Linked DNA regions of Homo sapiens. The protein of the gene in region 1 purifies or fractionates together with the protein of each later gene. This does not show direct contact. Each region holds a gene or a part of one and is shown on either strand. Other genes may lie near its edges.

The links. Proteins that work in one complex are often made in the same cells at the same time.
Region 2: the proteins of PRP4K (region 1) and CEP170 purify together in Homo sapiens (co-immunoprecipitation; one large-scale study listed by IntAct). This does not show direct contact.

What each region holds. Positions count from the first base shown.
Region 1 is NC_000006.12:4,034,378-4,038,553, reverse strand, and holds part of PRP4K (serine/threonine-protein kinase PRP4 homolog), read right to left. Parts: intron 1,158-4,176; coding exon 984-1,157; intron 1-983. UniProt on the Homo sapiens protein: Serine/threonine kinase involved in spliceosomal assembly as well as mitosis and signaling regulation. Connects chromatin mediated regulation of transcription and pre-mRNA splicing.
Region 2 is NC_000001.11:243,164,445-243,168,281, forward strand, and holds part of CEP170 (centrosomal protein of 170 kDa), read right to left. Parts: intron 1,673-3,837; coding exon 1-1,672.

The DNA.
Region 1 (4,176 bases):
CAGTGGGCCAAGACGAGCGGATCATTTGGGGTCAGGAGTTCGAGACCAGCCTGACCAACATAGTGAAACTCCATCTCTATTTAGAAAAATACAAAAAAAAAAAAGCTGGGCATGGTGGCATGGGCACCTCTAGTCCCAGCTACTTGAGAGGCTGAGGCAGAATTGCTTGAACTCAGGAGGTGGAGGTTGCAGTGAGATCGCGCCATTGCACTCCAGCGTGGGCAACAGAGTGAGACTGTCAAAAAATAAAATAAAATAAAATAAAATAAAACCCCTCATTGACCAGAGTGCACTCAGACCATGCATTTCCATTTCTAGGAATACAGCATACAAAAATTCTGAGAGATATGTAAAGATGGCTATAATATAAGCCTTTGTTTCTTAAAAATTATATTCATTTATTACTTCAATTAAAAATGTTAAAAGATTGGCAAACAAATACCCATTTATGTTTTATATTAAAATATTTCATGTATGTATGAATTTTAAAAAATGATTCCCTGCTTTATAAACCACCTTTTTAACCTATTACTGACTACATATGCTTCAGATAAAATGGTTTCTATGGCAAATTAAATAGGCCTTTGCCTAAGTCTACAGTAACTATCAATATGCAAAATTAATATAAAATGTAAGAAACTGGGCTATATATTTACTACTACATGATCTACCTTGCTGGTTAAAAAAAAAAAAAAATCCCTAAGTCTGGCTCATTTAGTATTGATTGATAAAAGAGAGAAAAAAGTCCTATTTTTAAAAGACTAATTTTATTGCATCCTAAATGAGCAATGATTTGTTTAAAATTCAAAGGAAACGATATAAAAGAAAACCCATGTGTAGAGATTGCTGGTAAAAGGAAACTATGGGAACACAACTACGATTTTTCAGAGAAAACTGGTCTAAAAGAAAACCTACCAAGTGAGCTCACTGGTGGTTCAAAAACATTCAGAGTTTAATGAATCACAAGGATGAAATGTCTTTACCTTCTCCGAGGAGATCTGCTTCTTCTTCTTGGAGACCTGCTACGTCTGAGTGGGGAACGAGACCTCCTTCTAATGGGAGATCTACTTCTTCTTCGGGTTGGAGACCATCTATTGATGGGGCTGGCATCTTTTGATCTTTCACGTCTACTGAGGATATCATCTCGAGGTCGTGTTCTTAAGGGGATCAAATGCAAGTTAAAAGAAATATAAATCAAAGTAAATGATTTTTTTCTATATGCAAAGAACATCTGTAAGAAAAGGCACATTAGCCTAAAGAAAGTGAACTTTGATTAATGTGTTTTGTAACAAAACTTACTCAGGTGACTACAGTGATATTTTGGTGTTATTGCAGGCAAACAATGAAAGGTCTTATTTCCTCTGGTCCCACAGTTTGAAAAATTACTAAAGGTTATTCATACCGGTAAAGTCACTGATTCTAATTTCAAATAAACCAACTCAAATAAAACCTCCCCAAGTGAGTATAATACTCCATTTACTCAAATATTCCATTTTCATTGACGACTTTTTCTTTCTACATCCTGACATTTCTCCAATTAAGGATCTTTTTTTTTTTTTTTTTTTTTTGAGACAGGGTCTAACTCTGTCACCCAGGCTGGAGTGCAGTGGCGCAAACACGGGTCACTGCAGCCTTGACCTCCCAGGCTGAGGCAATCCTTCCACTTCAGCCCCCCTGAGCAGCTGGAACCATAAGGGCATGCCACCACACCTGACTAATATTTTGTTTTGTAGTGATGGGGGTCTCACTATGTTGCCCAGGCTGGTCTCGAACTCCTGGCCTCAAGTGGTTCTCCCTTGGCCTCCAAAAGTGCTGAGGTTACAGGTGTGACCCACCATGCCCGGGCAAAAATCTTCTTTTTAATGTCAAGTATAATAGGCCAGGCACAATGGTTTACACTTGCAATCCCAGCACTTTCAGAGGCTGAGGGAGGACCGCCTGAGCCCATGAGGTTGAGGCTGCAGTGGCTGTGTTTGTGCCACTGCAGCCCAAGTGACAGAGTGAGAACTTGTCTCAAAAAAACAAAAACAATAGCTAGGTGTGGTGGCTCACACTTGTAATCCCAGCACTGTGGGAAGCTGAGGCAGATGGATCACTTAAGCTCATGAGTTTGAGACCAGCCTGGGTAACATGGCGAAACCCTATCTCTACAAAAAATATCAAAATTAGCCAAGTGTGGTGGCATGTGCCTATAGTCCCAACTAATAGGGAGGCTCAAGTGGGAGGATTGTGTAAGCCTGGGAGGCAGAGGTTGCAGTGAGCAGAGATCATGCCACTGCACTCCAGCCTGGGTGACAGAGTGTGACCCTGCCTCCAGTCTCCCCAGAAAAACCCCACAAAAACCCAACTTTTCAACACTTATCACACAAGTACCTTTCAGTGAGTTTTACTCTTGTTTAATGTGATATTTGTATTACAACAGGCCTTTCTACAGCTTAATTTTTTAAAACAGGTTTTGAACATTTCTTAATGTTATTCCAGGTTTGGTCACAACTATTCAATCTGAACAGTCAGATTGTAAATAGGTTTGTCTCCATAATCAAATAATATTACAGTATTTTCCTCATTTATTATTATTATTATTTTTTGAGATGGAGTTTTGCTCTTGTTGCACAGGCTGTAGTGCAATGGTGTGACCTCGGCTCACTGCAACCTCTGTCTCCCGGCTTCAAGAGATTCTCCCGCCTCAGCCTTGAGTAGCTGGGATTACAGGCATGAGCAACCACGTCCAGCTAATTTTATATTTTTAGTAGAGACAGGATTTCTCCATGTCGGTCAAGCTAGTCTCGAACTCCTGACCTCAGGTGATCCACCCGTCTCAGCCTCCCCAAAGTGCTGGAACACAGGCGTGAGCCACTGCAACTTGCCTTCCTCATTTAATAAAAACCTAAAAACACAACCTGCCTTGCATGTTTCAGCACGGTATACAGAACCCAAGAATCCTTCTCTGATCCAGCCAAAATGAGCAAGGTAGACTTTGATTCAGATCTGTAGTGCTTACTTCTTGGTAGTGCTTACTTCTTGATAGGGCCATCTGAGGAAACTCTTTTATTTAATCTGCTCACATACACGCACAGCCTCAAAAGACCAGTTAAAAAATATAAATGGGCTGGGTGCGGTGGCTCACGCCTGTAATCCCAACACTTTGGGAGGCCAAGGCAGGCAGATAACCTGAGGTCAAGAGTTCGAGACCAGCCTGGCCAACGTGGGGAAACCTCATCTCTGCTAAAAATATCAAAAAAAAAAAAAAAAAAAAAAAAAAAAAAAAATTAGCCGGGCGTGGTGGCGCACACCTGTAGTCCCAGCTACTCGGGGAAGCTGAGGCAGGAGAATTGCTTGAACCCAGGAGGCAGAGGTTGCAGTGAGCCAAGATCACACCACTGCACTCCAGCCTGGGCGACAGAGCGAGACTCCATCTCAAAAAAACAAAACAAAACAAAACAAAAACAACACACATATATGTGTATATATATGTATATATAAATGGATGGGATAAAGTAAACTAGTATAAAAAGAACAGAGTGTTGTCTGCTAAAATGCAATGAAAATAAACAGTGGCTCAGGCCTGTAATCCCAACACTTTGGGAGGCCGAGGTGGGCGGATCACGAGGTCAGAAGTTCAAGACCAGCCTGGCCAACATGGTGAAACCCTGTCTCTACTAAAAATACAAAAATTAGCTGGGCATGGTGGTGCGTGTCTGTAATCCCAGCTACTTGGGAGGCTGAGGCAGGAGAATCGCTTGAACCCAGGAGGCAGAGGTTGCAGTGAGCCGAGACCACGCCACTGCACTCCAGCCTGGCAACAGAGCAAGACCCCATCTCAAAAAATAAAATAAAATAAAATAAATAAATAAAAATAAAGAAAATAAAAATGTTCACCCTCACTAGTCACCTAAGAAATTTCGATTAAAACAATTTTTGGGTTTTTTGTTCTGTTTTTAAGAGTGACAAAATACTATATGGTATCCTGGTAATAAAGGTTTTCCTAAACTTTCCTAATACAGTTTCAGGAAAAGGGGCAGTTCACATAGTCATAGAAGTAGAAGTAGAAATTGACCTAACTTTCCTGGATGGAAATTTAGCAATAACTTTCTACAATGTAAATGTACATACTCTGAGACTTTGCAAGTCCACTTCTATGAGTCTATTCTATAAAGAAACCTCACATATAACCAA
Region 2 (3,837 bases), on another chromosome or scaffold:
GAAATTGTTGCTTCAGAGTCACTACGAGCTGACAGTGAGCCAAGTCGTGTTCTACGAGGCTGAGCCAATAAATCAATCCGAGAGATGTTACGCCTTCCTGTGGGAGGTTTTGATGTAGAACTTGTTGTGGATACTTCAGAAGCAACAGATGCTTTGTCAGCATCAGCAAGTTCACTGTCTGAAGCTTCACCAAGTCGTGCTCTGCGCAAGAGGGAAGTCCTGGTAGGTCGTGGCCTTGGAAGGGTGGTTGATTTACTAGATGAACCAGATACCACCGGAGAAGTCTTAGATTTCGTTACTTTACTTCCTTCCAGTTTGGAATGTACATGCTCATCAGCTGAGGTAAGTGGAGTCCGTCCATGAGGTTTACAAGAGTAAGTTTCTTGATCAGATGACATAATATCAGAGATGGCAGAATGAGGTACACTAGAGGTTTGGTCATCATCTGTTAAGTCTACTGAGGGCTGTCTTATTCTCCCACTGGACTGAACAAATTTACGACCATCTGCTCTTGAACCCACATCTGTGGAACGACTTTTTGTTTTCTTTTCCATTTTTTCCCTAGCACCTGAAGATGATGATTTTGTAACATCTTTGGAAGGAGAACCTGTGGAACACCTATCTTTATAGAGGCTAGTGAAACTCTTTCGCTTTTGGGTTGACTTTCTTTCAGTTTCTCCAGTAACCAGACTGATTGTACTAGCTGTATCTACATCAGATTCTGGTGAAATAGAATTGTCTCTATTATAACTGGGAGTATCTGGTCCTTCATCAGTTTTATTATCTTCACGTAGTTTAGCTTCTAGAAAAGCCATTACTGCTTCTGTGTCTTTTAGAATAAGGGTTGTGTCCATACTAGAATCAGGATCCAAAGACTCACTTCTTTCTCGTATTCTACTTGCAGATGTTAATGCTAAAGAAGAAGGAGTAGAGGAAGTCTGTTTATTTATATGGGGAATAAGTTCTATGGGTATGTTTGGGCTGGGTTTTTCTATAGTGAAGCTCCCTTGTCGCACTAATGACTTGGAGGATTCCTTCTTGTCTCCTCCCTTTGGAGTCTGACTTTTCAGAATTTCCTCAGCTTTTCTTCTCTTGCTCTCACTTTGTGCCACTCTGTCTCCTTTGCTTGTAGAATGTCCTGAATTTTTTTCTGGAGGTTGTGATTCTTGTTTAAAAGTTTCCTCCCTACATTTATCTGTCTGACCTGAAACATTTTTGGAAGACAATTTAGTAGGTGTCCACTGAGCCTCCTCCCTTTGTTCTTGTTGTTGAAGTTTTGCTAATGTTTGCTTTACCAAAGAAGTTTCCTTATCAGTTTCACTTTTCTCTTTTCCAGGAGCAGAGCTGCCTAAGTGAAGTAGGGTTTTATTATCTCCACCAGTTTTGAGAGTCTCTCCATTTACTGCCCTGTTCATTTTACTCAAGGGTCTGTCAGCATCTTGTTTATCTTTCTGGTATACCTGTGTAGGTGTTTCTTTCTCCTGAAGTTCTGTGTCTTGTTTTTCTCCTATCTCTGACCTCTGTGTTACAACCTTTGCTCTGTGGCTCTCAAGAGACTTTTCTTCATTTGGAAGCTGGGGAAGAGTTCGTCTCCTTCTCTCTCCCTGGCTAGCCAAGGAAGTTGCAGAGCCAGTACTTCTCACTGTCATGCCAGACTCACTGATCTCTGTCTCTATGAAATAAAAACCACAAAGAAGGAATTGATTAAGACAAATAAAATAAAAATAAAAGGAGCATCATACAGTTGTCTGTCAGTATCCATGAAGACTGGTTCCAGGCCCCTTATTCCCCCAGGATACCAAATCCCAAGGATGCTTGAGTACCTTATATAAAGTGGTATAATATTTGTATATAACCTACTCACACCCTCCCATATACTTTAAATCATGTCTAGATTACTTATAATACCTAATACAATGTAAAAGCTATGTAAATAGTTGTTATACTGTATTGCTTAGTGAATAAGTACAAAAAAATAAAGACTACACACGTTCAGTGGGGACGCAATCATTTCTTTTTCCCCTCTCAAATATTTTCAATCCTCAGTTGAATTCACAGATGCAAAACCCACTAATACAAAACCTATGGCTAGAGAGGGCCAGCTATATTACATTACATTTTGAGATGTAAGTTAAAAATGACTTAAGTATACAAAACAAACGAGCCAGCATTGTGACGAAGTAGTTTAAGTACAATTTCAAGCTGCACAAATAAGCAATTCCTAGAGAAGTCAGGAAGGCCAATTGTATGAGATGAAAATTAGAGTCATCTGATCATTTTTCTCCTTTCATATATTTAATTTTCTATTTATGAATTGACAAAAATTATATATATTTGTGGTGTATAACATGATGTTTTGATATATGTATACCATTATGGAATGGCTAAGTCAAGCTAATTAATATATCCATTACCTCACGTACTTATCTTTTTTGTGGTGAGAACATTTAAGATCTACTTTCAGCTATTTCAAATACCCAAGGCATTGTTATTAACTATAGTCATAATGGTATAAAAGGGTCATCTGATCTTAAACCTAAATATATTGCTCTTCTTTCCTCTTAATGTGTTTTATAGAAGGGAAGTTCACTGTGTTCATTCTCACTTTTGTAACTTTCCATCCTTGAGGTTTGCTCAAAAAACCAGAATCTATTGTAGATTTATACAGAGAATGTCAAATAAACATTGTTTATTTTCTATATTTTCAACTACATAGTAGAGAAGAACAACATAACTAGTTTTTAAAAAGTATTATCTACTTGAAAGAATGATAATTTTGGATTTCCTAAGTAAAGTGAAAAATGCAGAACTTTTAACAACATTTTAAAAAAATCTATAGCCGATTAAAAGAATTTTAAAAATTGTAAGTATGTAACAGCAGACTTTTCATAGTTAGGACATAGCAAAATTTTATAAATTGAGGAATTTTTAAATTATAGTCTTCTGGTTATTAATGCCACATATGGAAATACAAAATCCCTTTCTTTTTTTTCAAGTAGAAGCCAATGAGAAAATATATATTTTGATTTTTCCACCTGAGAGAATTTGAGAATATTTAAGGATTTTCCTGACTATTAAAAATGGAATGTATTTCTGAGAAAAGGGAAACATCTTTTCAGGGAAATATAAATTAACATATAAAGCTTCCTAATCTTTTAGGGATAAATGGAGAAAAGATACTAGATATAGCTTCTGTGGGTCTTTTTTTTCCTCTTTACAATCCTAAAAGTTTAGTATTTAAATATCATATCAATACAATGGATGTGATGGAGGAAAATCCATACTGAACTGATAGATTTAACTTTAGTCATTAATCATGTTATATCTTGTTTTGTTTCTTCTTTCATATATCTTATCTCCTTAGTGCTAACTGAAGCATCTAGAATGTAATGGCTACTTTACCCTTTTGTATTTTTCCAGTATTTCTCATACTGCCCCCTCCTCATATACATTCAATATGCTTAACAAAAACGTTTTATTATTTAAGTAGATTTATCAGCTTATGTAAATAAGTTCATTTAAATATGATGACATAGAAATGAGATCATGAAAGCTAAGTGGTCTATTATTTTTTATAACAAGGGTAGAACTTTGCTTTTCACAGATAATACTTAATAATTTTATAACGGATTCTTTGGTAAAGTTATCTAGCCTTCTGTCTGGTTTCTTTGTTTCCTAAACACAGTTTATACGAACCAAATGACTCTGTTCCCTCAAAAGAATTTTTGGTCATACTATCAATAACTTCTAGATTCTAATATAAATAAATGACGTAGCTTTTCTAGTACACTGCTATGTAGCTTCCTCAAATACTTCTAATACTTACAAAATTCTTAA